Linked DNA regions of Homo sapiens: regions 2 and 3 are each linked to region 1. Evidence: fine-mapped expression QTL. A gene starts in region 1. Each other region holds a variant in brackets. All regions are shown on one strand. Distances are between the middles of the regions. Region 1 holds the start of SRP54 (signal recognition particle 54). Region 2 overlaps PSMA6 (proteasome 20S subunit alpha 6). Region 3 overlaps SRP54-AS1 (SRP54 antisense RNA 1).

Evidence for each region. PIP is the estimated chance that this variant, and not a neighbour inherited with it, causes the effect.
Region 2: its variant is fine-mapped to the expression of SRP54 in subcutaneous fat (GTEx, PIP 0.97).
Region 3: its variant is fine-mapped to the expression of SRP54 in whole blood (TOPMed, PIP above 0.99).

Annotation. Positions count from the first base shown.
Region 1 is chr14:34,976,656-34,986,698 of GRCh38, forward strand. SRP54 (signal recognition particle 54) reads left to right here and starts at 6,337. Exons shown (of 16, transcript NM_003136.4): 1 at 6,337-6,560. It overlaps SRP54-AS1 (SRP54 antisense RNA 1), which reads right to left and starts at 5,911. Exons shown (of 5, transcript NR_151701.1): 1 at 5,769-5,911. RefSeq lists a silencer at 4,308-4,602 and enhancers at 5,488-5,537, 5,656-6,357, 5,748-5,837, 6,018-6,517, 6,548-6,807.
Region 2 is chr14:35,315,885-35,325,927 of GRCh38, forward strand. It overlaps PSMA6 (proteasome 20S subunit alpha 6), which reads left to right. Exons shown (of 7, transcript NM_002791.3): 7 at 1,365-1,609. The coding sequence ends at 1,422. It overlaps PRORP-PSMA6 (PRORP-PSMA6 readthrough), which reads left to right. Exons shown (of 15, transcript NR_182666.1): 15 at 1,365-1,587. Among named protein-coding and RNA genes, the nearest start is that of PSMA6, 29 kb to the left of the region's middle. The variant T/G (reference allele first, on the strand shown) is at 5,377.
Region 3 is chr14:34,928,261-34,938,303 of GRCh38, forward strand. All of the region lies in intron 2 of SRP54-AS1 (SRP54 antisense RNA 1), which reads right to left. Among named protein-coding and RNA genes, the nearest start is that of SRP54-AS1, 49 kb to the right of the region's middle. The variant G/A (reference allele first, on the strand shown) is at 4,913.

The sequences.
Region 1 (10,043 bases):
AGACTTTGTATGAGTTATTGGTTTAATGTCCTCATTTATTTCTATTTTGCATATTCAGGAAATACTGAGAGCCTTCAGAGTAGAATTTGTTAATAGACTGCTGTTGCATTGTATCTTTTCTATTTGCCCTATTGGGGACCCCATTTGCAGATCTGGTTCTCAACTCCCCTCACTTAATGGATTGCAATCAGTCTCCTACACTTTGAAATCTAGGTCAAGAGCCCACTTCATACACATCAGGAAAATAGTAGGGAAAAGATACTCTGCCAGAGGATCAGAATCAATGAGTTCCAGTACTGCTGTATTTTAACTGCTTTTTATCTTTTTTTGGGGGGAGAGGAACTTGTTTTTGCCTGCATTGCCCCTCAGACTTGGTTTACCTGTCTGACACTAGTGCTCATTATTTCCTAGCCTAAGCTGTACAAAGAAACATCTAGGCTCCCACCTTTGTTTTATGTTTCTTTTTTCCTTTTTTTTTTTGAGATGGCGTCTCACTCTGTTGCCCAGGCTGGAGTGCAGTGGCGCAATCTTGGCTCACTGCAACCTCAGCCTCCTGGGTTCAAGCAATTCTCTTGCCTCAGCCTCCCGAGTAGCTGGGACTACAGGTGCACACCATCATGCCTGGCTAATTTTTTGTTTTTGTATTTTTAGTAGAGACAGGGTTTCACCATGTTGGCCAGGCTGGTCTCAAACTCCTGACCTCAGGTGATCTGCCTGCCTTGCCTCCCAAAGTGCCAGGATTACAGGCGTGAGCCACTGCACACAGCCATGTTGTCTAGTTTTAATAAACTCTTATGAAACTCAAAACCAAAGCCATACTCAACATCTAGCGTTGTCTTTTGTTATTCCATCAAATGGTATAAAAATTCAAGAAGAGTTATAATTTAAATTAAAAGTCTAGGCAAATGTCATGCAAGACATTATTTAAATGACTTAATGCCAGAGGTTTAAAAATTTATTTAAAAATTATAGGAGAGGCCAGGCACAGTGGCTCAGGCCTGTAATCCCAGCACTTTGGGAGGCCGAGATGGGCGTATCACCTGAGGTCAGGAATTCGAGACCAGCCTGGCCAACATGGTGAAACCCCACTTCTACTAAAAATATAAAAATCAGCCGGACTTGGTGGCATGTGCCAGTAATCCCAGCTACTCAGGAGGCTGCACTCCAGCCTGGGCAACAGAGCGAGACTCCGTCTCAAAAAAAAAAAAAAAAAAAAAACAAATTTCCCCAGGCAAAAGGAAATCTAATTAGGAAAATGAAAAATGGTTGTTTAGAAGAATATTTTGTGCTGTACTTAGACCACTTCATAAAAAGGTATACTAAGAGTTTCAGTTTGGGAAGACAAGAGTTCTGGAGATTAATAGTGATATTTACAAAACAACGTGAACATATTTAATGCCACTTAACTATACAGTAAAAAATGGTCAAAATGGTCTGGCCGTGGTGGCTCACGCCTGTAATCCCAGCACTTTGGGAGGCTGAGGTGGGCAGATCACGAGGTCAGGTGCTCGAGACCAGCTTGGCCAACATGGTGAAACCCCATCTCTACTAAAAATACAAAAATTAGCCAGGTGTGGTGCACGCCTGTAATCCCAGCTACTCAGAAGGTTGAGGCAGGAGAATCGCTTGAACCTGGGAGGCAGAGGTTGCAGTGAGCCGAGATTGTGCCATTGCACTCTAGCCTGGGCAAAGAGCAAGACTCTGTCTGAAGGAAAAAAAAAAAGGTCAAAATGGTAAATTTTATTTTATACATATTTTACCACAATAAAGAAGGTATACTAATACACTACTTTTTTTAAGGATTATAAATAACCATACTCCTTTATTTTAAGTTCAGTGATACTCTCACTTCTTAAAATTTTTTTTAATTTTTAATTTTTTTTTTTTTTTGAGACAGGTTCTCACTATGTTGCCCAGGCTGGTCTCACATTCCTGAGCTTAGGCAATTCACCTACCTCGGCCTCCCAAAGTGCTACGATTACAGGAGTGGGCCACATGCCCGGCCTCACTTCTTAAAATATTCGGGTTAATAAACATTCTTCAGAAACTCAAGTTATTTTTTAAATTGTTTAACAAATTGCTTGAGCTTCCTCACTACAGGATCTGCTGAAGAGAGGCACAAGAAGTACCTTTAGATCAGGTACGATGGCTCACACCTGTAATCCCAGCACTTTGGGAAGCCAAGGTGGGAGTATCTCTTGAGGCCAGGAGTTTGAGACCAGCCTGGGCAACATAGTGAGACACTGTCTCTACAGGAAATTTAAAAAAGCTGGGTGTGGTGGTTTGCACCATAGTCCAGCTACTCAGGTACTCAGGATGCTGAGGTAGGAGGACTGCTTGAGCCCAGGAGGTCAAAGCTGCAGTGGGCTATAACAGTGTCACGGCACACCAGCCTCCAGCCTGGGTGACAGAGTGAGACCCTTTCTTTAAAAACAACAAAAAGTACCTTTAAAAAAAGTAAAAATAGGGCCGAGCGCGGTGGCTCACGCTTGTAATCCCAGCACTTCGGAAGACCGAGGCGGGCAGATCACGAGGTCAGGAGATTGAGACCATCCTGGCTAACACGGTGAAACCCCGTCTCCACTAAAAATACAAAAAAATTAGCCAGGCGTGGTGGCACGTGCCTGTAGTTTCAGCTACTCAGGAGGCTGAGGCAGGAGAATCGCTTGAACCCAGGAAGCGGAGGTTGCGGTGAGCCAAGATCGTGCCATTGCACTCCAGCCTGGGCGACAGCAAGACTCTGACTCAAAAAAAAAAAAAAAAAGTAAAAATATATTCTTTAGCCAGTGATATTGGCTCTTGTTTACAAAATTATCCAAAACGTTCTTTCAAGTCTTCCTGATTTTGAAAAATAGAGTCTCAACTGATATCTCTAAAATTTGAGGCTGGGTACAGTGGCTCATGCCTGTAATTTGAACACTTTAGGAGGTTGAGGTGGGAGGATCCCTTGAGGCCAAGAGTGTGAGGCTGTAGTGAGCTATGATGGTGCCACTGCACTCCAGCCTGGGTGACAAAGACCCTATCTCAAAAACAAACAAAACACAGGAAAAAAAAAATCAAAATTTAGATTGCAAATGGCTCCACAAAACAAATCTTGAGGGCAAAGATGTTTTAGTAATTTTACAATTGCCAGCTCTAGGCAGTATGTGACATCTTTCTAGGCACTCAGTGCTTTTAGAATAAATGACCTTGTGCTGAGGAATGTGAAAAAAAAGATGTAAATCGGTGCTGTTTTATTGACAAATGGGATATGAAGAATGAAATGTGCGGCCGAGCACGGTGGCTCACGCCTGTAATCCCAGCACTTTGGAAGGCGGAGGCGGGCAGATCACGAGGTCAGCAGATCCAGACCATCCTGGCCAACACGGTGAAACCCCCTCTCTACTAAAAATACAAAAAATTAGCCGGGCGTGGTGGCGGGCGCCTGTAGTCCCAGCTACTCGGGAGGCTGAGGCAGGAGAATGGCGTGAACCCGGGAGGCGGAGCTTGCAGTGAGCCAAGATTGCGCCACTGCACTCCAGCCTGGGGGACAGAGCGAGACTCCGTCTCAAAAACAAAAACAAAAACAAAAAAGAAATGTGCAACATAGGGTTTAGATGAAGTGACAGGAGACTCAGCATATTATGGAAATTATTATCTTGATTTTGTGTATATAGAAATAAAGCTGTATCCGGCTGGGTGCGGTGGCTCATGCCAGTAATCCAGCACTTTGGGAGGACGAGGAGGGCAGATCACGAGGTCAGGAGTTCAAGACCAGCCTAGCCAACATAGTAAAACCCCGTCTCTACTAAAAATACCAAAATTAGCTGGACGCGGTGGTTCGTGCCTGTAATCCCAGCTACTCCAGGGGCAGGAGAATCACTTGAATCCAGAAGGCAGAGGTTGCAATGAGCTAAGATCGTGCTACTGCACTCCAGCCTGGCGACAGACTGAGAATCCGTCTCAATAAATAAATAAATAAACAAAGCTGTGTATCTGGTTTTCTATACTTTCCAGGTCAAATCTCACTAGCAGATGTTCCTGTTATCTTCAGTTTGACATCTTATCTAAAATGACTCCTAAAATGTGTAATAATGTTAATTATAATATCTAAACCTACTGACTCTAACATCACAAAGAATTTTAAGAGGTCGAGGTTAAAAATCTAAAATTGTAAGTCATCAGCTAACAATGACATTTCAAGTCATGAGCTTGGATAAAAATAACCATGGAAATCACCATTCAGCAAAATACAGGCATAGTGGCCAGGCGTGGTGGCTCACGCCTGCAATCCCAGCACTCTGGGAGGCCCAGGCAGGAAGATCACCTGAGGTCAGCAGTTTGGGACCAGCCTGGGAAACATGGTGAAACTCCGTCTCTACTACAAATACAAAAATGAGCCGGGCGTGGTGGCGGACGCCTGTAATCCCAGCCACTCAAAATCGCTCGAATCAGGGAGGTGGAGGTTGCAGTGAGCTGGATGGCGCCACTGCAGCCCCGCCTGGGCAACAAGAGTGAAACTCTGTCTCAAAAAATAAATACACACACATACACACACACACACACACACACACACACACACACACACACACTCTCGCATACAGGCATAGGATAGTTTGCTATAGTTAACAAACATAAGAATATCCTATTTTCTTGAGCTTTCATCAGGCTTTACTTTGCCAGAATACATCTATCCCATTTTTCAGTAACTAGATCTAGCTACCACATTTCCTCAGTTTTAACGTGTGTGTTTAAAGAGACAGGGTCTTGCGTCGCTCAGGCTGGAGTGAAGCAGCGGGATCAAAGCTCACTGCAGCCTTTTTCTGTCTATAAATCTTCAACACTTGGCTGCGCTGCAATCTCTCTGAGCCTGCCCGATTCGTGAATCATTCTTTGCTCAAAATGTTAAATTTAACTTGGCTAAGGTTTTTCGTTTAACACTTCCTACTAACGCTACAGCCTAAAACCTCTCCTGCAAAATGCTTTTTCAGGTGGCAACGTACCAATTCTAACAAGTTTGTGGGAGTAATGGGGAGGAGGGCTAACCCTCTATTTTCTTTCAGAAAAAGGGTTAGGCACAAGGAGCTCTAAAGGCTTGTCCGAAGTCTGCTGAAAACTCACAAACCACTCAGAACCAGGTTTCCCACACCCAATTAATTCCAAGTGGTACTGTATCCGATTACCCCCATTTTCCAAGAGATAGTTTATTTTTTCCCCTCTTTTCCCCTCCCCACTACACTTTCCACTTAGCCCTTTTTGAACTGCAAAATAACCTCTCAACTCCCCTCACCAGACCATTCTCTACAGAGCAAATTCATCTACGAGATCCAAGACGCAACTCCCACCGCCAGGCGGTCGCCTCAGAAGGGTAAGCAGAAAGCATGCCCACTTGGCCACTTTTACAACTTATTTCTGCTCAGAAATGCACCAACTCAACTACCCGGTAGATAAGGCACCAGCTAGCAGAGACCTCTTGCTCATTTCCTCTTGTACCTTATAAAATGCCCGCTTTTTTGCTCCAAAGACGAAGCGGGCTGGCTTCAGAAATAAAATCCCTCTTCTTGTATACTAGGGCTCGCTCTTGTTAATTGGTGTCTACGTGTGGCGAGCAACTAACTCTCTTTTCCGTTAGAGCACTCAAAGCCCTGGTCAATCTACCCCCCAAGACAGCAGAGACCAGCACAACGATCCCAAGGAAGGCTGTTGGCTTCACCCCGCTTAAGTCCTCAAAGTCAGCGCCTGCAGCATATCCTTGCCCCCACCACCTGCCTCTAGCTCTGGTCACTTACACTTACGGTTAGTTCGCATCCACTGTAACAGCGCCTGGCGGTCGGCAGGAGCCACAGTGCGAAGCGGCCGCAGCATCACTGCCTGCCTCGCAGTGGGAAATTTTACCTTGCTGGAGCAAGCCGCGCAGGCACTGGCTGGCATTGCGCATGCGCAAGCAGAGACCGCCCCACCCTCCGCGGAACAAGCCTCCGGTCTGCAAAGCCCTAAGCCCCGCCCCTCTACGGAGGTCTCACGTGCGCCTGGGGATCCCTGCCTTCAGTCACACCTCTATCTCTCATCTTTCCGCTCTTAGCTGGGAGTGCTCCGCCTAGTCACTTTTCTTAAGGTGGCTCGTCGAGGCCTGACTTCTTCCCCGAAATCACGTCCCTAGACAGCCTCCTATTTTACCACTAACTTTACTCCTGCAGTTATTCAGCGGTAGGAAACTGAAACCAAAAACCAGTGTAAGCAAGTAAACATCTAAACTGTTTCAGGAGCCGCGTAGAAGGAACGCGGCGGTGTGCCCCGGAAGCGGAAGTAGATTCTCCTATAGAAAGGCTGGACTACGCGGAGTGGTGACGTTTCCTCATTGGGCGGAAGGTTCGCTGGCACTCCGTTGGTCTTCCAGCTGGTGGGAGTTGACGACGTGGTGCTGGGCGTTGGGACCCTACTTTATCTAGTTCGGGAAGTTGGGTTGTGGGGTCATACCTGTCTGTCTGCTCCCAGCTTTCTTGGGTTTCTTCCGACGGCGTGGGGCCTCGCTAAGGAATTCCCGGCCCCTCAGGGCCACGGCTTTAGCGGTGTCTTTTGCGGTAAGTGTCTGCTTTTTCCCGCCCCAGACTACGGAGGGGGAGCGAGGGGCAGCCCCAGCGCTGCTCAGGAGGCGAGAGACTCCGGGGGAAGTCGGCCTCCGTGGCCACCGGCCATCGTTACCGAGACTGAGTTTCTGTGGCTCTTTATCTCGTCTTCCATGAGAAGTTTTATTAAAGATGCGCTGTGCCCCTTTTGAGTTGTCTTCCGATTTACCTGAGCCAAATAAGATGTAGGCAGTTGCAGGCCTGAGTCTTCGTTTTGCTTTCCTGAGCAAGAATTTAGATGAAGCTACTTCCCCGAAAATCCTTTTACTTGTACGAGACTTTTATTTTTCCTATGTGTTTGTAGTGCTTAACACAATGTCCTGCGTGTAGTAGACGTTCAATAAACGAATATGGAATATCAGTTGAATGCCAATGATGATTTAAGATAGACTGATAGCTCTCTCTGTACCATTTGACGCTGCTGACCATCCATTTCTTGAAACTTTCCCCTGCTGCCTTTCTTCATGCTATCCTCACCTGATTCTTTCACATGCTTAATTTAACAAAATATATACTTGTTCTTGGCTACAAGGATACAGAAATGAATAACACTAACTCTGCCATTGAGAAGCTAACGCACATAAATACACATTATATCAAGATGGGTAATGAGAAACACTAGTTGCATATAAAGAGCTGTAGAAAGCTGTGGGAGAGCTAAAGTGCTCCTTAGGTGCTTTGTGACCCTGAGCCAGTTTCTATTCCAATCTAGCCTCAATTTCCTCATCTACTTAATAGGCTTGTTTTGAGGAAGAAAGGAGATTAGGTAAGAGGTTTGGTTTGGTTTAGTGCCTAGAATACAGCAATCGTGGTGCCAAAGGGGAGGGAAATATTTCCCTCAAATCGCTTTTTCTCAGTTTTTTGATATGGCCAACTGGTATTTTCTACCTTAATATAGAGTACTATGCAAAAGCATCTTCAAGTCTTCCTTCCAGATTACTCCTCTGTCCCCATCTATTTGGAAATTCTGGACCTGCCACAGGATTACAGTAAGATAACCATAAATGTAGCTTTTTAAAAATTGATTTTCTCCTATGTGCCATGGAGAAAGGGAAAGGGAATTAGTAAAAGCTCCTATCTCTTTGGTTATTTTCAGTCTTGGTTAACGCCGTCCTTTTAGTTGGCCCTCAGTCATTGCTATAACCCAAATGGTCTTCCACAGGCTCTCCTCGAGGCTTCTCGCTTGCTTCCATGGCATTGTCCCTATATGCCAACCATGTCCAAACCTTATTCTTTTCATTTCCAAACCTTGTTCTTTTCCAAACCTTATTTGCTCTGTCGCCCAGACTGGAGTACCGAGGCACCATCTCGGCTCACTGCAACCTCCGCCTCCCAGGTTCAAGCAATTCTCCTGCCTCAGCCTTCCGAGTAGCTGGGATTACAGGTGCCTGCCACCACGCCCAGCTAATTTTTGTGTTTTTAGTAGAGATGGGGTTCCACCATGTTGGCCAGGTTGGTCTTGAACTCCTGACCTGAAGTGATCCGCCTGCTTCGGCCTCCCAAAGTGCTGGGATTACAGGTGTGAGCCACCATGCCCTGCCTAAACCTTATTCTTTAGCCTCCATCTCATGAGTTGATAGTTCTGTACTTTCCCCTAAAACTTGCAAACTCATTAGGTCCAAAACCAAATGCACTGTCTTCACCTTCCTTTTTTTTTTTTTTTTCACTATGACATATGTCATGCATACGAAAGTGTATAAAAGCAGTGATTGTCAGTGCGTTTTTGAGTTTTGACCTCTGGTTGAATTTTGTGATACAAGTAGGTTAAATTTTTAAAAGGATTATAAGGGCTGTGAGCAATGGCTCACGCCTGTAATCCCAATACTTTGGGAGGCTGAGGCTGGCAGATTGCTTTAGCTCAAGAGTTCGAGACCAGCTTGGGTAACATGGCGAAACTCCCTGTCTCAACAAAAGAGACAAAAATTAGCCAGGCTTAGTGGCGCCGCCTGTAGTCCCAGCTAGTTGGAGGGATAATGAAATGAACATCTATGTACACATCCTTCATAAAAAGTGAAACATTAAAAATAATACATTAAGTCCCTTTGACCTCTTCTCTATTAACTCCTCTGACTTTCAAACCACCTTCCCTTTTTGCCTTCCATTCATTGGTTAATGGCATCACTAGCCATCTGGTTATAAAAACTAGAGATATTGGAATCATTTTTGCCTCTTTTTTCCTTCACTTGCCATAACCATTTGGTCATTAGATTCTGCTTCATGAATTAGCCCTTAACCCTAGTTTCTTTTTCTCTAGTTCAAGGCCACATCTTGTCTCAACTAGCCTTATGGAGTATGGGTAGTGCATGTAGTGTCCTGGCTCTTCAGTTTTTTCCCTCCAATGTATTTGTTACACTGTATCTAAAGATGTTTCTAAGGTATAGAACAGATTTCTCATTCTGTTGTTTTCTTTGGGACATGTTATTAAATACTTAATATAGTGATTATGAACCCTTGCTGCACATCAATATAGCTAGTGAAAGTTTTCAAAACATAAATGTCTTGTTTTGCACTCCAGATTAAGAATTTAGATGAAGCTACTCCCCCTAAAACTTTTTTACCTTACTATCTCTGGAGAGTCTGATTGAGCATTTAATTTTTACTGATAGGCATTATCTAAATGTCATTGAAATAACGCATTGCTTGAGCATATGCCTCTTATCCCTCCTTTTCCTTTTTTATTTTTCACTTTTCCTTTTTCTTTTCAATGTTAAGGCCAACTTTCCAAGGAATTCTTTTGATTTTCGTTTTAATTTTCTTCTTGGTAGCATTTTATGTAAAGATTCTTTTTATGGTTGACCTCATAGCCAGAAAGTATCGTAAAGAAATGATTCCCAGTGTTCCTGAGTTATTACCTCTTGTTGCTAATTGACTTTTTTTTTGGTATACCTTTTTTGCTGCAAAAGTACGAATTGGTGCTGTGATATTATTTTACATAAAATGAGTTTTAAAATTTGAAAAACAATTACTTTAATGAAGAGAAAGTTGCTTGATACTTCTTGATATAATTGAATATAATCTTTGGTGCTAAGTTAAGACAGAGGTGGTATGATGCATAATTTATCTTTTGAAGGGAGTCTTGTGTTAAACTGTTATATTTGATTAGGAATTAGAACTTCTCTCATGCTGGGACAATTTCTGGAGTACATAGTAGGTGTTTAATGAATGAGTAAATGAATACAAGTGGCAGCTCCATCCCAACCTCTAGTCTGTTGACTAGTTGCACTCTAATTCTCACAAGGAACGCTTTGGAAAATAATTTTCCCTTGACTTAAAAAATAGTGTTCTCAGTCATTACTAAAAAATTGGAAATTAGAAAAAGATATAAGAAAATAAAAATTGCTGGTCGTGGTGGCTCACGCCTGTAATCCCAGCACTTTGGGAGGCTGAGGCGGGTGGATCATGATGTCAGGAGTTCAAGACCAGCCTGGCCAAGATAGT
Region 2 (10,043 bases), 340 kb after region 1:
ATAAATTCTGTGATAGTAAATATATGTAAATAATTACAGTACATAGCATAAGCATCAACAACTATTTAAACTGCTTGATATTGCCTTCAGTTGCACTAAAAAATGTCCTTTTGACAAATTTCACTTTTTAGAAGTCTAGTAGTAATAGGTCACATTAACAAGGTTGCCAAACAATTGCTTCCTTTCGAGGCAAACATCATTTAGAAAATACATGTTCAGGGCCACACATGGTGGCTCACACCTGTAATCCCAGCACTTTGGGAGGCCAAAGTGGACAGATCACTTGAGGTCAGGAGTTTGAGACCAGCCTGGCCAACATGGTGAAACCCCATCTCTACTAAAAATACAAAAATTAGCCAGATGTGGTGGTGGACGCCTGTAATCCCAGCTGCTTGGGAGGCTGAGGCAGGAGAATTGCTTGAGCCTGGGAGGCGGAGGTTGCAGTGAGCCAAGATTGTGCCACTGCACTCCAGCCTGGGCGACAGGGTCAGACTCCATCTCAAAAAAAAAAAAAAAAAAGAGAAAGGAAATATATGTTCAACATGGAGCACTCTCTGGCTGGTAGACTATTCATAGAATTATAACTTTATTTTCATGAACTTCTGAATCTGAACACTTTAATATGCTTAAAATTTCTTCATGAATTTTTATCTTTGAGCTGACATAAATTTCAGTTATACTACATATAAATGTATTTTGACGGCTGGGCAAGGTGGCTCACGCCTGTAATCCCAGCACTTTGGGAGGCTGAGGCAGGCGGGTCACGAGGTCAGGAGTTCCAGACCAGCCTGTCCAATATGGTGAAACCCCATCTCTACTAAAAATAGAAAAATTAGCTGGGCATAGTGGCACATGCCTGTAGTCCCAGCTACTCAGGAGGCTGAGGCAGAAGAATCGTTTGAACCTGGGAGGCAGAGCTTGCAGTGAGCCGAGATCACGCCACTGCACTCCAGCCTGGGTGACAGAGCAAGACTCTGTCTCAAAAAAAATAAAAAATAAATGCATTTTGACATAGAAGCTAAATAGAATACTTTATAGTTTAGCTTTATTTATGTTATTCAATTGAAATATTTTCTATCTTAGCTGCAACTAAAGAATTTTATTTTCAAGATACAATTCTAAATCTGATGTCAAAGTAAACATTTTTGTGTATAGGTGAAGGTGGTATAATATCTGGGAATTCCTTCAAAATAATCTGAGGGAAGATAAGTGTGTGTATAGATTTTTTAAAGATTGGTTTATAAATTGATAATTGTTAAAGTAGGTTGATAGGTATATGGGAGTTTATTATACTATCCCACTTTTACGTGTGTTTGAAAAAATTTTTTTTAAATCGTTGTTTTTTTCCCCCTTTTGCCTTCTAGGATTCTTACAGAAGCAGAGATTGATGCTCACCTTGTTGCTCTAGCAGAGAGAGACTAAACATTGTCGTTAGTTTACCAGATCCGTGATGCCACTTACCTGTGTGTTTGGTAACAACAAACCAACATCATGGAGGTCCCTGGATTGAAAAAGGAGCCTCTCCCACTCCTCCTACCACCGAAGTGGTTAGGACTCTATATAAATAAAAACAAGGCTTTTGGAAAATAATTGCATCCTGTTGTTTTCACCTCCTATTTTAAAATTTATTTTTGACACCTAATGTACATATTTATGGGGTGCAATGTGATGTTTCGATACATGTATACATTATAATGATCAAATTAGGGTGATTAGCATATCCATCACCTGAAACACGGTGTTTTTGTGGTGAGAACATTTAAAATCCTCTCCTCTAGCTATTTTGAGGTACACAATACCTTATTAGTTTTTTGTTTTTTAAAACAAGATCTTGCTCTATTGCCCAAGCTAGAGTGCAGTGCCATGATTATGGCTCACTGCAGCCTTGAACTCCCTTGTTAAGTAATCCTCTCACCTCAGCCTCCTTAGTAGCTGGTACTACAGGTGTACACCATTGTACCCAGCTAATTTTATTATTTTTTTGTAGAGTTGGGGTCTTACTATGTTGCGTGGGCTGGTCTCAGACTCCTGGCTAGCATTAAGCGATCCTTCTGCCTCAGTCTCCCAACATGCTGGGGTTACAGGCATGAGCCACAGTGCCTGGGTCCACAGTACCTTACTGTTGACTGTAGTCACTCTGCTGTGCAATAGGATACCAAATCTTACTCCTTTTTTCTCTTTTTTGAGACAGGTACTTGATCTCACCCAGGCTGGAGTGCAGTGGCAGGCGTGCTCATAGCTCACTGCAACCTTAAATACCTGGGGTTAAGCAGTCCTCCCACCTTAGCCTCCCAAGTAGCTAAGACTACAGACATGCATCACCAGGCCTGGCTAATTTTTTATCTTTTAAAATATTGACATAGGGGTCTCCCTATGTCACCCAGGCTAGTCTTAAACTCCTGGCCTCGAACAGTCCTATCTCAGGCTCCCAAAGTGCTGGGATTACAGGTGTAAGTCACTGCACTGGGCCCCTCCTGTCTAATTGTAACTTTTTAGCTGTTCACCACCTTCTCCCCATCCCTCCCACTACCACCTCCAGTCCCTGGTAACCACTGTTCTATGTACTATTCACTACTTATAGATCAACGTTTTTAGACTTGGCATGTAAGTGAAAATGTGGCATTTGTCTTTCTGTATCTGGCTTATTTTCACTTAATGTATTGTCCTCTAGGTTCATTCATGTTATAAATAACAGGATTTCATTCTTTTTAATAGCTGAATAGTGTTCCTTTGTGTATATATATCACATTTTCTTTATCCATTCATTCACTTTGAACACTTAAGTCAGTTATATCTTGGCTATTGTGTATAGTCCTGCAATAAACATGGGATTGCAGATACCTCTTCAACATACGGATTTCACTTCCTTTGAATACATACCAAGGAGTGCAGTTGTTGGGTCATAGAGTAATTCTGTTTAATTTTTTTAGGAACGTTCATACTGTTTTCCATAATGGCTGTACTCATGTACATTTCCCTTAATTGTAAGGGTTCCCTTTTCTCTGCATCCTCAACACTTCTTATGTTTTGTCTTTTTGATAATAGTTATTCTAACTAGTGAGGTGATGTCTCATTGTGGTTTGCCTCCAATTTTAAGTATTAAGCCTTTGGTATATGCAGACAAATATTCACCATCTTCACATTGTAGCTTTAGTCATTTTGTTGACACTGGTACAAGTTTACTTGGCTTAAGACATTTCATAGCCAGCACCAGGCGTGCTGGCTCACACCTGTAACCCCAACACTTCGGGAGGCTTAGCCGGGCAGATCACTTGAGCTCAGGAGTTCAAGACCAGCCTGGGCAACAAGGTGAAACCCTGTCTCTACCAAAAATATAAAAACTTAGCATGCACATCTGTGGTCCCAGCTACTTAGGACACTGAGGAGGGAGAATTGCTTGAGCTCGGGGGATAGAGGTTGCAGTAAGCAGAGATTGTGCCACTGCACTCCAGCCTGGGTGACAGAAATGCCATCTTAAAAAAAAAAAAAAAAGCCAGAAATGTAAACTAGCTATATGGTATAATTAAATAACAAACTACAACTTTGGTTTTGAAACCCACTCTGGCCGGGCGCTGTGGCTCACACCTATAATCCCAGCACTTTGGGAGGCTGAAGTGAGAGGATTGCTTGAGGCCGGGAGTTTGTGATGAGCCTGGACTACATAGCAAGACCTCGTCTCTACAAAAAATTTTTAATTAGCTGGGCATGGTAGCCTGCACCTGTAGTCCCAGCTACTCAGGAGGCTAAGGCAAGAGGATCACTTGAGCCCAGGAGTCTGATGCTGCAGTGAGTTGTGATTGTGCCACTGCACTTAAGCTTGGGTGACAGAGTAAGACCCGGTCTCCAAAAAGAAATCCACCCTGACCGTAAGTTGGCATGTGAGGAAAGGCCTTTATTTTACAATTTCTCATTCAAACAAGATACTACTGAATGTGGACTCCAAGTCCCACTGAATGCTTTAACTATAATAAAAGGATTAGTATGATCTTCCATAGTTTTGAGAAAAGCATTTATACTCATTAAGAACCAGTATTTTCAAGGGTAGAAATTTTAGTTACCTTCAGGAAACAGGGCTAGAAAAGTCATAGAATGTGTGTAGTTTCTGTGCCTCCTTAATAATAAGTACTTGAAGATAACATTAAGGAATTGGTTTATATTAAAGTTTAGAGACCCAGCATCACAATGTTCAGGAAGAAAGAACAAACTGTATATTCATGGTAACTTTTTTTTTTTTTTGAGACAGAGTCTTGCTCTATCGTCCAGGCTAGAGTGCAGTGGCGTGATCTTGGCTCACTGCAACTTCCACCTCCCGGGATCAAGTGACTCTACTGCCTCAGCCTCCTGAGTAGCTGGGATTACAGGCACCTGGCACCATGCCCGGCTAATTATTATTATTATTATTATTATTTTTGTATTTTTAGTAGAGACGGGGTTTCACCATGTTGGCCAGGCTGGTCTCGAACTCCTGACCTCGTGATCCACCTGGCTCGGCCTCCCAAAGTGCTGGGATTACAGCTGTAAGCCACCGCACTCAGCTGTAGCCTATGTTTTTTTTAATGTACAGGATTTTTTAAAGTCCCTAGACTGGTGACCTGAACCACTAATTAGAGATGATTAAAAAATCTTGGAAAGTCTAAGGGTAATACATTTTGTGTCCTCTTTTGCACAGAGGAAGTCTGGTGCTGTTGACCTCATGCAGGTGAGTGTGGCTGCTGGTCTCATGCCAGTCCCTGAAATTAGAGTTGCCCCTGTTTCTGCAGCCACCAGGGCCACACAAGGGGAGGCCACATAAACATATGACCAGTAGAAGCAGGAAACTTCACCAACCACATCCTCTTCAGAGCTGTCAGGAATAGTAAAATTTCCTAACAAGGAAGCAGGGTTCTTCCTTGTTCTTCCAGGTTGTTCTAGGATTACCCATCCTAATCCACTAGGCTCTTTGAAAGTGCTGCCATCGTTTCGAAAGTGGGGTCTATGTAAAAGGGCTAATCCTCTAAAGACAAGCTGAATTTCCACACCCTTAGAGCCTTGACTGATGTCACCCTCCTAGAATCAGTGGATGAGAGACTAGCAACTAATTCAGTTTTACTGTTAGGGGCTCCTTTTCAGAGGTGAAAAACTAAAATTCTGTAATTTGTTAGAAAGTAAGTTTTTACATTATAAGGCAAAATCTAGATGAATTAGGATTAAATATAGAATAGTTTTAAATATTGGTTGTTTATGCTTAATTAAAAGAATGAGAAGAAATAGATCATTTTAAATAGGTGAACATTAGGCTGGGTACAGTAGCTCATGCCTATAGTCCCCAATACACTGGGAGCCCAAGACCAGTGTGGCAACATTTTGTCTCTACAGAAAAATTTAAAATTAGGTCAA[T/G]TGTGGTGGTGCACACACACCTGGAGTCCTAGCTACTTGGGAGGCTTAAGTGGGAGGGTCACTTGAGCCCAGGAATTCAAGGCTGTAGTAAACTATGATCACAACACTGTACTCCAGGCTGGGTGGCAAAGCAAGACCCTTTCTCTAATAATGAAAATAAAAGGGTGGACATTAAATACTCTAATTCTGGCTGGGCGCAGTGGCTCATGCCTGTAATCCCAGCACTTTGGGAGGCTGAGGCAGGCAGATCACCTGAGATCGGGAGTTCAAAAGCAGCCTGACCAACATGGCGAAACCCTGTCTATACTAAAAAAAAATTAGCCGGGCATGGTGGCACATGCCTGTAATCCCAGCTACTCGGGAGGCTGAGGCAGGAGAATCGCTTGAACCTGGGAGGTGGAGGTTGCAGTGAGCCAAGATCATGCCATTGCACCCCAGCCTGGGCAACAAGAGTGAAACTCTGTCTCAATCAATCTGTTTCTTGTTTTGTTTTCTAAACAAACTACCTGGAATGGATAACAAAGGGTTAATGCAGAAAGGTTATACAAAATGCCAAGAAAAATGCCTGAAATCTTTAAATATCTTTACTCAAAGAACATTTTGATTAGTAAGAAATACACATACCAGGCACAGTGGCTCACGCCTGTAATCCCAGCACTTTGGGAGGCCCAGGCAGGCGGATCACTTCAGGTCAGGAGTTCAAGACCAGCCTGGCCAACATGGCGAAACCCAGTATCTACAAAAATACAAAAATTAGCCAGATGTGGTGGCGTGCACCTGTAATTCCAGCTACTCAGGAGGCTGCGGCAGGAGAATCACTTGAACCCGGGAGGCCAAGGTTGCAGTGAGCTGAGATCGGACCACTGTACTCCAGCCTGGGCAACAGAGTGAGACTCCATCTAAAAATCAATCAATAAATATAAGAATACAGATATGAGGCCAAACACAGTGGCTTATGCCTGTAATCCTGGCACTGGGAGGCCAAGGGGGGTGGATCACTTGAGGTCAGAAGCTCGAGACCAGCCTGGCCAACTTGGTAAAACCCCATCTCTACTAAAAAATACAAAAATTAGCTGGGCATGGGGGCGCACACCTGTAGTCCCAGCTACTTAGGGGGCTGAGGCAGGAGAATCGTTTGAACCCGGGAGGCAGAGGTTGCAGTGAGCCGAGATCCCGCCACTGCACTTCAGCCTAGGCAAGAGAGCTAGACTGTCTCAAAAAAAAATACAGATATGATTTTTTAAATATGAGAAATATAATAATTCTGACACTCAGAGGATATGTCCAGACATTCATGAACGTGAAGCTATTTGGGTAGACATGAGGCTTTCCTTCTCTTGATACCTCATTTTTCATAAGCAGTTACTGTACCATTTAGGTTACAAGTCAGCAACAAACCAGGTACTCAGCTCCCTCACTAGCCTCCAAATCCAAGATCCAGATTTGTGACACAACCAAATTATTACATTAAGGATCTTCACGTAGGGGCACACACCTGTAGTCTAGCTACTCAGGAGGCTGAGGTGAGAGGATCACTTGAGCCCAAGAGGTCGAGGCTATAGTAAGCTGTGGTCACGCCACTGCACTCCAGTCTGGGGGACAGAATGAGACACCTGTCTCAAAAAAACAAACAAAAATCTAAAATGACAGCTAAGCTAATTAACATCATAATGGTGAATTAGTTTAAATTTTTTTATTTTTATTTATTTTTATTCTTTGAGACGGAGTCTCCTTCTGTCACCCAGGTTGGAGTGGAGGGGCACGATCTCGGCTCGCTGCAACCTCCGCTCCCAGGTTCAAGTGATTCTCTTGCCTCAGCCTCCTGAGTAGCTGGGATTACAGGCGCGTGCCACCACGCCCAGCTAATTTTTGTATTTTTAATAGAGACGAGGTTTCACCATGTTGGTCAGGCTGGTCTCCAACTCCTAACCTCGTGATCCACCTGCCTCGGCCTCCCAAAGTTCTGGGATTACAGGCGTGAGCCACCACGCCAAGCCTGTTTTATTTTTGTAGAGGCAGGGTCTCGCCATGTTGCCCAGACTGGTGTCCAACTCCTGGGCTCAAGCCATCCTCCTGCCTCAGCTTCCCAGTGTTGGAATTACAGGCGGGATTACAGCCACCATACCTGGCTCCAAGATGGCTTCTAACTCCATTTATTTTACATTCTGGAAATTCCAGCTGATACAATAAGAAATGAAATTAAGAGGTATTGGAATGGAGATAGAATTATAATCTACTATTTAGATTATTTACCTAAAAAAATAAGAAAGTGACCTAATAAAGTATTAGTCTTTATTGGGACAGGCCCTGTTTTAGATACAATATCCTTTAAACTGGTTTAAGTTGAACATTTATAATTTGCTTGTCTACAGTTCCAAAATTCAGGAAGTTCTTAAAACTCAACTGGCTTTTTATATCTCACTTTATTTCTGCAGAAATATGAATGTGCTTAATTATAGGGTGCTGCCCCAGACTCCAGTGGTAGAGTTATGGAATATATGGTTTAGACATCATATTACCACTCTAAAATCCAAAATACATTATATTCCGAACGCATCTGTGCCAGGCGTGGTGGCTCATGCTTATAATCCTCGCTGGGGAGGCCGAGGTGGGCAGATTGCCTGAGCTCAGGAGTTCGAGACCAGCTTGGGTAACATAGCAAAACCCCGTCTCTATTAAAAATACAAAAAAAAATTAGGCGTGGTGGCGCACGCCTGTAGTCCCAGGTACTCGGGAGGCTGAGGCACAAGAATCGCTTGAACCTGGGAGGCAGAGGTTGCAGTGAGCCAAGATTGCACCACTGCACTCCAGCCTGGGCCACAGAGTGAGACTCTGTTTAAAAAGAAAGAAAGAAAGAAAAGAACCTGGCCCCATGCCTTTTGGATAAAGAATAATAGACTTATACTATTATTATTCCCCTGTTGCGGGTAAAAACAAACAAACAAAAACGAAAACAAAAACTGAGTCCAAGTTAAGTAATTTGGCCAGGATCACACAACTACAATGTGTCAATGACAGGACTAGAACACACAATAGTCTGACTTCAAGATGCATCTTTGTCAGGATGTTAGACGAAATCTACAGTCACTTTTTCTCAGATTGCCCCCTTCCCAACCATCCCAAAAATGTATAAAAAGTAAATACCTTTCCTATATACCAGGAATAAATGTTTAGAAAATTATGTAAGTACAGCACAATAGCAACAAAAATATAGATAGGAATCGTTCTAACTGGAAATATTGACCCATGTGAAGGAAAGTAAAAAACTTGACTGCGAGACCTCCTGCTGCTAGATGGAAGTGCTGACTATTGTAAAGTCAGTTCTTTTCCAAACTAATGTGTAGACTTAAAGTCATTCTAGTCAAAATACTAAAAAAAAAAAAATGTGTTTTTAAAACTTAGAATTGCCAAGCAACAGACCTTAGCATATATAAGAATTTAATATATGATAAAATTAGCACCACGTATCAATGGGAAAATAATTCTAGGGAGAAAATAACTATGTAGGAAAAAATATTCTTTGTCTTACATCTTACAACAAAATAAAATCTAAGAGGCTTCACAAGGTAATTAAAAATATATATATATTTAAAAAGAGCTAGAAGAAGGAAAAAGAGACAGAAAATAAAATAGTTTAGTTGAAAAACAGATCTCCACATGGAGATCCACTTTCTAAAGAACAACAATGCACTTTGGGAGGCCGAGGTGGGCAGATCAGCTGAGAACAGGAGTTCGAGACCAGCCTTGAAACCCCGTCTCTACTAAAAATACAAAAAATTAGCCAGGCCTTATGGTGGACACCTGTAATCCCAGCTACTCAAAAGGCTGAGGGAGGAGAATCGCTTGAATCTGGGAGGAAGAGGTTGCAGTGAGCCAAGATTGCACCATTGCACTCCAATCTGGGTGACAACAGCAAAACTCCATCTCAAAAAATAAATAAATGATAAAAAATAAAATAACAATGGATAAAAATCATGAAGGGAAAACATCTATATATTTCACTACTTAAAAATGTAAAATTTTGTTAATAAGACCCCATAAACAAAGTTCAAATAGGAGAAAATATTAACACATAAATAGAAAAATATAACAACAACAGACAAGTCACGAAAATTTTCTAGTCTAAACCTAAAAACTCAATAATTTTAAAATGAAAATTACAAGATAACATATTTTCTATCAAATTACTAAGACTTTTACATTAATAGCACATAATATACTTGGTATATTGCAAGTGTTTCATAAGTATTTGTTGTATGAAGGAGTGATGAAGTATATTAAAAGTTAGCTACTCCAGGCCATGCTCAGTGGCTCACGCTTGTAATCCCAGCACTTTGGGAGGCCAAGGCGAGCAGATCACTAGATCAGGAGTTCAAGACCAGCCTGGCCAATATGATGAAATCCCCATCTCTACTAAAAAATAAAAAATAGCTGGGTGTGGTGGCATGTGCCTGTAGTCCCAGCTACTCAGGAGGCTGAGGTAGGAGAATTACTTGAACCCGGGAGGCGGAGTTTGCAGTGAGCTGAGATTGCGCTATTGCACTCCAGCCTGTGCCAGAGCAAGACTCCACCTCAAAAAAACAATTAAAGTTAGCTACTCCTTTTGCTGGTGGAAGTACAAACATCTTTCTGGAGGGCAACATGGAAATATGCATCGAGAACCAAAA
Region 3 (10,043 bases), 48 kb before region 1:
ATATTGCACTATAATTATGTAAGACCTGACCATTAGGAGAAACTGGGTGAAGGGTACAGAGAACCTCTCTGCACTAATTTTTCAACCTCCTGTGAATCTATAATTATTTCCAAATGTAAAAATACTATTAACACTGATATTTTAGTGTGTGAACCCCAATTAGATTTTCTTTTCTTTTTTCTTTTTTTTTTTTTTTTGAGATGAAGTCTGGCTCTGTTGCCCAGGCTGGAGTGCAGTGGCACAATCTTGGCTCACTGCAACCTCCACCTCCCAGGTTCAAGTGATTCTCCTGCCTCAGCCTCCCAAGTAGCTGGGACTAAAGGCACATGCCACCACGCCCAGCTAATTTTTTGTATTTTTAGTAGAGATGGGGTTTCACTGTGTTAGCCAGGATCGTCTTGATCTCCTGACTTTGTGATCCACCTGCCTTGGCCTCCCAAAGTGCTGGGATTACAGACGTGAGCCACCATGCCCAGCCTAGATTTTCTTTCTTTTTTTTTTTTTTTTTGGAAACGGAGCCTCACTCTGTCTTCTGTTGCCCCAGCTGGAGTGCAGTGGCGCCATCTCGGCCACTGCAACCTCCGTCTCATGGGTTCAAGTGATTCTCTTGCCTCAGCCTCCCGAGTAGCTGGGATTACAGGCACATGCCACCACGCCCAGCTAATTTTTCTATTTTTAGTAGAGACAGGGTTTCACCATGTTGGTCAGGCTGGTCTCGAACTCCTGACCTCGTGATCCGCCCACCTCGGCCTCCCAAAGTGCTGGGATTACAGGCATGAGCCACCGTGCCTGGCCCCAGCCTAGATTTTCTACTTATATCCTCCTTCTAAAAGTTTCCCTTTCCTGCCTACTCCTCAGAATTGAAGTGAAAATCATCATTTTCAATAGAGGTTGTCCCAAATATAGATGACAGTTGATAAGTCCTGGGATGGACATCTGCCCCAATGTGGGCCGGTTGGAGCCTTTTCCTGAGACATGGCATTTGGACTGAGAAACAGCCATTTCTTTTCCTGTGTCCACACTGTAATTTGTAAACTGAAGAGCTGCCAGCAGCTATTTTCCACCTTGTGGTTCAGGGAAGCAGAAGAACCTGATGGACAGAGAGAAGGTGGAATGATGCTGATGTACAAAGGGAGGAGGACACATGAGACAGAGTCTCTTTGACATTCACCTTCCTGGCTCCTTATGTCCAGTTCAATTTGTGTCCTTGGGTTCTGTGAGACCCTTTATGTGTTTAAAATACATTCACCTCATTATCTAAGCAAGATCCATTCAGATTTCTATTACTTCCAACCATAATCCTAACTAGCACACCTACTACAAAGATGCACAGTTTTTGTCCTACGGCTTACACTTAGAATATGCCTTTTTTTTTAATTTAAGAAGTATGACGCCAGGAGCAGTGGCTTAAGCCTATAATTCTAGCACTTTGGTAGGCAGAGATAGGAGGATTGCTTGAGTCCAGGAGTTTGAGATCAGCGCCAGGAGCAGTGGCTTAAGCCTATAATTCTAGCACTTTGGTAGGCAGAGATAGGAGGATTGCTTGAGTCCAGGAGTTTGAGATCAGCCTGGGCAACAAGGAGACATCATCTCTTAAAAAAAAAAAATTAGCTGGCATGCACCTGTGGTCCCCACTACTTGGTAGGCTGAGGTGGGAGGATCGCTTGAGCCTGGGAGGTTGAGGCTGCAGTGAGCCATGATTGTACCACTGCACTCCAGCCTGGTGACAGAGTGAGACCCTGTCTCAAAAGACAAACAAACAAACATAATGAAGTATGACTTTACTGTATGTAAGATACAGATTGGCACTCCTGCATAGTACGATCACAGAAGATATACTAAAGATCATTTAACCCACCCCTCTTATTTTCAGGTGAGAAAACTGCAGGTTAAGGGCCTTAGCCAAAGTCATACAGCCAGCTGCTAGAAGTATCAGACTCAGCATCGTGTCACCTTTCCCACGTCAATATTACACGGTCAGTCCTGGAGAGAAACATCAGGATGCTCCACTGAGGGTTTTATTTGTTTGCATATAGTATACTAACTGCATAATGAGTTAATCAGAACATAGCTAACAAGGACCTACTTGAGAGATCAAATGAATAAGAGATAATGTATAGGGATATAAATAGTTATAATTATAGGTACTTAATTCTAAAAACAATCTTTAACTTTTGTCACTATTAGTCATGGAGGTATTCCATGTGTCACTTAGAACAGATATACATAGTCTATTGAGAGTTAAAAAAAAACAATTTGAGGACAGATTACTCCAACATTTTAATTCAAATAGTATCTAGAATTGAGAAAAAAATTAAGACTATATTCAACAGGATGTAAATACTAAGTTTGACGTAAACTTCCTGAGAAGTGGAGGTTTGCTCGGAAACTTCCTGCTTGGTCATAACAGAGAGCTGGAACACATCAGTTTACCTCTCTTGATCTGGTCTGATACTGTTGGTTTAAAATGCTGATTTGGGATTATTCTTAGCCAAAGTAGCCAAAGCACAGCATTGTGTTGACTGTATTTTGGGAGGTAATTATAAGGTGGGAAAGAAGTATTACCTAGTTTTTAAATAAAAAGGAGTCTAATGAACATGTGACTTCCCGGAAAGCAAAGCACAGAATAGAAAATGTGTAATTTACAGCTTTCAGTTTTCTGTTCTCTTTATTGAAGTAGCTGTTCCTATCACTGCCAGCCCTTTGGCCATCCAAAGTTGCAGCTGTCTACTTTTTTTTTTTTTTTTTTTTTTTTTTTTGTTAAGACAAGGTCTCGCTCTGTCACCCAGGCTGGAGTGGATATGGATGTCCTATACCTAATCAATCTCCAGCTACTGGACGTTTAGGTGGTTTCCAATTTACTACCATTATAAAACAACACTGTAGTAAACCATCATACAGAAATCATTTTGCAAATATCCGATTATTTTCTTAAGTTTTTAGAAACTGAACTGTTTAGTCAAGGTATTTAAACATTTTTAAGGCCTTTGTGACACTGCTGTCAGCAACAGATGAGGATTTCCTATTCTGATGGGTGGAACTTTTCTAGGGGTGGTAATATCTCTTACGTGAAGTCTTGTTTTGTTTTGAAGATGCAGGAAGTTATATAACAGAGACTTTCCTTGCTGGCACACTGTACCAGGAAGGAGACACAGCACTCTATCCACCCTACTTGGCCAGTTTGGTATTTGAATGGAAAGGGCAAGTTTGTTTTTGAGGTGGTGTGTCACACTTGTGTCATGTGAGACACAATATGTAGATCAAAGAGGAGAAAAACCTTTGGGCAATTCTATTAGTCTTCAGTGTGCTTTTGCTAAATATCTTCAATTAAGCAATCTATTACAGATGGATGGTACTGGTTTTTCTTCCCTGAATCCTCCCCTCTTCAAAGGTGATAACTAATTTCATTATTTTCATTAAATATCCATAGACTGAAAGATCAGGTTCTCAAAGATAGTTTCTTTAATTGTAAACTGTCTAATTTTTACTAAAACAAATAAAAAGAAAACCAAGTGGTATTAACTTTGATTTGAGTATATGTGTGATGAGGGTTAATCCTTTCCTGTTTTAATGTGTATGATACGAAGTGTATCTGCCTCAATTTTTATTTATTTATTTTTTGAGACAGAGTCTTGCTCTGTCGTCCAGGCTGGAATGCAGTGGTGCAATCTCGGCTCACTGCAATCTCCGCCCTTGGTTCAAGTGATTCTCCTGCCTCAGCCTCCTGAGTAGCAGGGATTACAGGTGTGTGCCACCATGCCAGGCTAATTTTTGTATTTTTAGTAGAGATAGGGTTTTGTCATGTTGGCCAGGCTCGTCTCAAACTCCTGACCTCAGGTGATCCGCCCACCTTGGCCTCCCAAAGTGCTGGGATTATAGGGGTGAGCTACCATGCCTGGCCCTGTCTCAAATTTTAGTGCAGTGCAATCTATCACTAAGAAATTTCAGGCCGGGCGCGGTGGCTCACGCCTGTAATCCCAGCACTTTGGGAGGCCGAGGCGGGCGGATCACGAGGTCAGGAGATCGAGACCATCCTGGCTAACACGGTGAAACCCCACCTCTACTAAAAATACAAAAAATTAGCTGGGCGTGGTGGCGGGCGCCTGTAGTCCCAGCTACTGGGGAGGCTGAGGCAGGAGAATGGCGTGAACCCGGGAGGTGGAGCTTGCAGTGAGCCCAGATCGCGCCACTGCACTCCAGCCTGGGTGACAGCGAGACTCCGTCTCAAAAAAAAAAAAAAAAAAAAAAAAAAAAAAAAAGAAATTTCAAAGCTGTTATTTAAGATGTTAATTATATAATATACAAATATCACGGTTGTGTGGTTTAACCTGTTAAGACATGCTTAGAAAAGAGAACGTGAGTATACTGACTTTATTACAAGCCTATATTGGAAGATATATGGTAATACATAGGTATGTATAACTCCCTGATAACAATAGGTTATGCATTATTTAAAAACATAATGTCAAACAGCATTACAGTTGGTAATTTATTTAAAGACTACAAGCTTGCTTGTCTGTTCACTACTGCATTTCTATCCTGAACATTTCTGGATATATTACTATATATCAGGTTTATATACTTTTACTATAGGTATATAAATATTTGCTGAATGAATAAAATAGGAAGATAATTTTAAAAGGTAAAAAATGGCATTTAATTTATAAAACATAATAAACAAAAGTTCTAAATCGTATTAAGTTCTAAAACAAACCAGATTTGTCAACATAATTCCAAGTTTAATTCCAAACTTAAAAATGGTAGCATGTAATATCAGTTCACTGAATATTGTAATTAGATATTAAAAGTTCAGATATGAGTAGTAAAGGCAGAGTGGGACTTGTAATACCAGGGTCAAAGGTAGTGCTTGGGGTCTGACTAAATATTTGAAAAAGGACATCAACCTGTGTGG[G/A]CAGGTGTTTATGAAGGATGAGAAAGAAGGCAACTTCTTTTTTTCTCTGGTTCTGTGGGCTTCTCTTTAACTTTTGTTTTTTCACTCTTTATCATCCAAAACTAAAGGATTCATGAACTTTGAAGGATCTGAGCAATCGATCTTTGTAAATAGGTAACTTGACACAGTCTTAGGGGAATTAATGATAGTGTATGATAGACTTAATGGAAGCTTAGAAAACACTCTTTTTTTGGTTAACTACCATAGGCACTCTATTTATTTATTTATTTACTAAAGGCTAGCCAAGTGAAGCAGTGGGAGTAGAGAAAGAACAAAGAAATCTGGAACTGGTTGTGATTAATTAGTCATAAACCACTGCACTCGGACCAGCCCATATGCACTCTTTAAAACTTAAAACTTTTTACCAAAATCTTAAATATCAGAACAAGTCAGAAAGCTTGTTTTTTTTAAACCTTGTTTTTATTATGAAATGTATTACACATAACAAAAACTTCATAAAACATATATATAGATTTAAAAAATAATAAAGAAACATTTATGTACTCACCAGCTTAAGAATAATTTTTTGGGTGGGCACAGGGGCTCATGCCTGTAATCTCAGCACTTTGGGAGGCTGAGACTGGAGGATCACTTGAGCCCTGGAGTTTGAGACCAGCCCAGGCAACAGAGACCCCATCTTCACAAAAAATAAAAAATTAGGCTGGGCATGGTGGCTCACGCCTGTAATCCCAGCTCTTTGGGAGGCTGCGGTGGGTGGATCACAAGGTCAAGAGATAGAGGCCAACATGGCGAAACGCTGTCTCTGCTAAAAATACAAAAATTAGCTGGGCGTGGTGGTGTGTACCTGTAATTCCAGCTACTCAGGAGGCTGAGGTAGGAGAATCACTTGAACTCAGGAGGCAGAGGTTGCAGGGAGCTAAGATCGTGTCACTAAACTCCAGCCAGGTGACAGAGTGAGACTGTCTCAAAAAAAAAAAAAAAAAAGAAAGAAAAAGAAAAAGAAAATTAGCCAAGTGTGGTGGCTCACACCTGTAATCCTAGCACTTTGGGAGGCTGGGGTGGGCAAACTGCTCGAGCCCAGGAGTTTGAGACCAGCCTGGGCAACTTCGTGAAACTCTGTTTCTACAAAAAAAATTTAAAAATTAGCTGGGCGGCCGGGCGCCGTGGCTCACATCTGTAATCCCAGCACTTTGGGAGGCCGAGGCAGGTGGATCACGAGGTCAGGAGATCGAGACCATCCTGGCTAACACGGTGAAACCCCGTCTCTACTAAATATACAAAAATTAGCTGGGCGTAGTGGCAGGCGCCTGTATTCCCAGCTACTCGGGAGGCTGAGGCAGGAGAATGGCGTGAGCCCAGCGGGTGGAGCTTGCAGTGAACCGAGATGGAGCCACTGTACTCCACTCTGGGCGACAGAGCGACACTCCGTCTCAAAAAAAAAAAAAAAAAAAAAAATTAGCTGGGCATCGTGGTGTGCACCTGCAGTCCCAGCTATTCCGGAGGCTGAGGCTGCAGTGAGACATGATTGTGCCGCTGCACTCCAGCCTGGGCAATAGAGTAAGACCCTCTATCAAAAAAAAAAAAAAAAAAAAAGAAGAAGAAGAAGAAGAATTTCTTAAATTAACTATCTATGAGAATTGTCAGGTTGACTGTCGTTTTCCAGCTGAGTTTCACAAAATGGGGCCTGCTTAATAAAACAGATTGATACATTCAAATCCACAGGCTCTGGTAATTTGTACTAACGAATACTTATTTCTAGAATTGACCAGAGTTATCACAGAACTAGGAGTGTATTATTTTACAGAATAGTGGAGAACTAATTAAGTACCTATGACTTGTAAAAATAGAAGCTCATGGTTTTTAAATGGAAAAGTCTGACTGGAAACTACAGTCCTTTAATATTAATTTCTAAACTCAGAAGTGAGATTATGATACAATCGGTTGGCAACTATCTAAGTTTTTCCTAGGCAATACCTCCCGTGGCTGGGTAAAGAATATATCTTCTCACATGCATATTAATTTCTTTGAGTGAAATCTGAGTTAGGTGTAAGTTAATATTTATCAAACAGAATCTATATTAGTTATCTCTTGCTGTATGAAAAATTACCCCCAAACTTGGTGCCTTAAAGCAATAAACAATTATTTTCTTACAGAGTCTATGAGTAAGGAAGCTAGGCAAAGCTTAGTTGGGTCTCTTGGCTCTGGGTTTCTCATAAGGCTGTATAAAAGGTGTTGAGCGGGTGCTGCAGTCATCTTAAGGCTTGACTAGGTGTTGATGTTGGTAGGACTTAGTCCCTATCAGGGTGTTGCACTCAGGGCCTCCGTTCCTCACTGGCTGTTGACTAGAGGCTACCCTCCGTTTTTCTGCCATATGGACCTATCCTTTGGATTGTGACCTATCCTTTGGAAATTGCAACATGGCAATTTCCTACATTGGAATGAGCAAGTGAGAGCGCAAGAGAGAGAGGAAGATGAAAGTCACAGTCTTTTGTAACCTAATCTCAGATGTGACATTCTGTCACTTTGCCATATTCTATTCTTTTGAAAGAGGTCATTAGGTCCGGCCCAAGCACAAGAGGAGGAAATTACACAAGGATGTGAAAACCAGAAGGTACGGTGCTTAGGAGTCATTTTAGATGCAGCCTACCACAGTAACTCAGAAAGAAGGAAATACAAAAAGTAAAAATGCTTCAACAACAAGTGCTACTAAAAAAAAAAAAAAAAAAAAAAAAAAAGAATAGGCCGGGCACGGTGGCTCACGCCTGTAATCCTAGCACTTTGGGAGGCCGAGGTGGGCGGATCACGAGGTCAAGAGATCGAGACCATCCTGGCTAACACGGAGAAACCCTGTTTCTACTAAAAATTAAAAAAAAATTAGCTGGGCGTGGTGGCGGGTGCCGGTAGTCCCAGCTACTCGGGAGGCTGAGGCAGGAGAATGGCGTGAACCCGGGAGGCGGAGCTTGCAGCGAGCAGAGATCGCGCCACTGCACTCCAGCCTGGGAGACAGAGCGAGACTCCGTCTCAAAAAAAAAAAAAAAAAAAAAAAAAAAAAAAAAAAAAAAAGAATAGAAAAAGGAAAAAAAGTAAAAATGCTAACTCAGCTAAGCATCGTAATTAAAGAATATCTTTTGTATGCAGAGATGGCATTATTGATGATGATTCCTTTGGGATAGGTGGTCGGGAATAGAAAGACTGCTAATTGAAGTAAGAATACTTTTCACAAAAACAAAGATGGTTCTATGATTTATAGCCATTGTTCACCACTTGTAGAGTTCCTTGCTGTTTTTTACTTTACAAACAATTTTTATAGTGAAGCAAACATTAAACATGAATCAGCAAAGTGGTACTGTGATTTACAACTCAAAAACAATTCTGGGATACACCAATCAATCAGTAAGAATTTACTGAGCACCTACATATGCTAGAAAGTTACTGATACTAGAAAAGTATAAAACAGTATCTGCCCTCAACCTGCCCTCAAGTCTGTGGCAGGTATCGAAAATCTATGCAATAGGAATTAACCCTTTACTAGGGTATTGTATCAGATCCTGGGCTCTAAATTCAAGAGATGAAGAAAATGGGAAAAAATCCAGAGGCATGATTAACCAAAGGATTAAAAATTAGAAAACACAAAATAGCAACAACAACAACAACAAAAATTAGAAAACAGAATTTATGTGGAAAGTTTAAAGGCACATTGCTTATTTAACCTGAGGAAGGTGAAAGTTGCTTTAGTAATCATCTTTAAGTTTATGAATAGTTACACAGGAGATGGAAATAAATGTTTGTGCCCTCAATGAGAAATCTACAGGGCTGGGTGTGGTGGCTTGTGCCTGTAATCCCAGCACTTTGGGAGGCCGAGGCAGGCAGATCACCTGAGGTCAGGAGTTCGAGACCAGCCTGACCAACATGGAGAAACCCTGTCTCTACTAAAAATACAAAAAATTAACCGGGCGTGGTGATGCTTGCCTGTAATCCCAGCTACTCAGGAGAATCGCTTGAACCCGGGAGGCAGAGGTTGCGGTGAGCTGAGATTGAGCCATTGCACTCCAGCCTGAGCAACAAGAGCAAAACTCTGTCTCAATAAATAAATAAATAAATAGTTCTGAAGTCCCTTCTAAGTTCAGTTAAGTTCCACATACTAGATAGAGGCAGGAAAATGTGAAAAAAAAAAAGTTTTTATTAAAAAAAAGAGACATCTACAAGAGAATTGGATTTCTAATATAGTATATACATTAAAAAGTCTTAGAATACATATATTAAGAGAAAATTGTTTAGGAAGGCTCAATGACTTTTTTTTTCTTTAGGGCTTCTTTACAAAACGTTTCCTCACTGTTTTGACAATATCATGAAAAAAATTCAGTTTAGAATCTAGAACTGACCTGGATGGGATTCACAGGGACTGCACAGTCCCTGATTCCTCCCCGACGGTGGGAGCTTAGCTACTAGAAACAGGAACTCAGTTGGTGTCTCGAGTCAGACAAGAAAGGGGAGGCCAGGCCAGAGGCGCCACGGAACTCCCCTTAGTTCTGAATGACAACTTTTAAACCTGCAAGGTCTTTGCTCTGGAGGGAGACATTAACTTTATTATACAGGAAAGTAAACAAGTCTGATATCTGCTCTGAAGGGAAATACTATCTCTAAATTAAGGCTCACCTGTAATCCCAGTGCTTTGAAAGACCAGGGCGGTGGCTGGGTTTTGTGGCTCACGCCTGCAATCCCAGCACTTTGGGGGGCTGAGGCAGGAGGATCCCTTGAGCCCAGAAATTTGAGACCAGCCTTGGCAACACAGGGAGACCTCATCTCTATATAAAATTGAAAAATCAGCTGGGCATGGGGGCACGTGTCTGAAGCCCTAGCTACTCAGGAGGCTGAGGAATGCACCACCACACTATAGCCTGGGCAACAGTGAGACTGTGTCTCAAAAACAAACAAAAAACTATATTTGACTATTCTGAATATACCATATTGAGATAAACTTGCTGTTCTCAAGAGCCCCTTTACATAATAAGATCAGATAAATTATAATTGTTGAGGTTTTTATACTTTTTTTTTTTTTTTTTTGAGATGAAGTCTTGCTCTGTCGCCAGGCTGGAGTGCAGTGGTGCAATCTAAGCTCACTGCAGCCTCT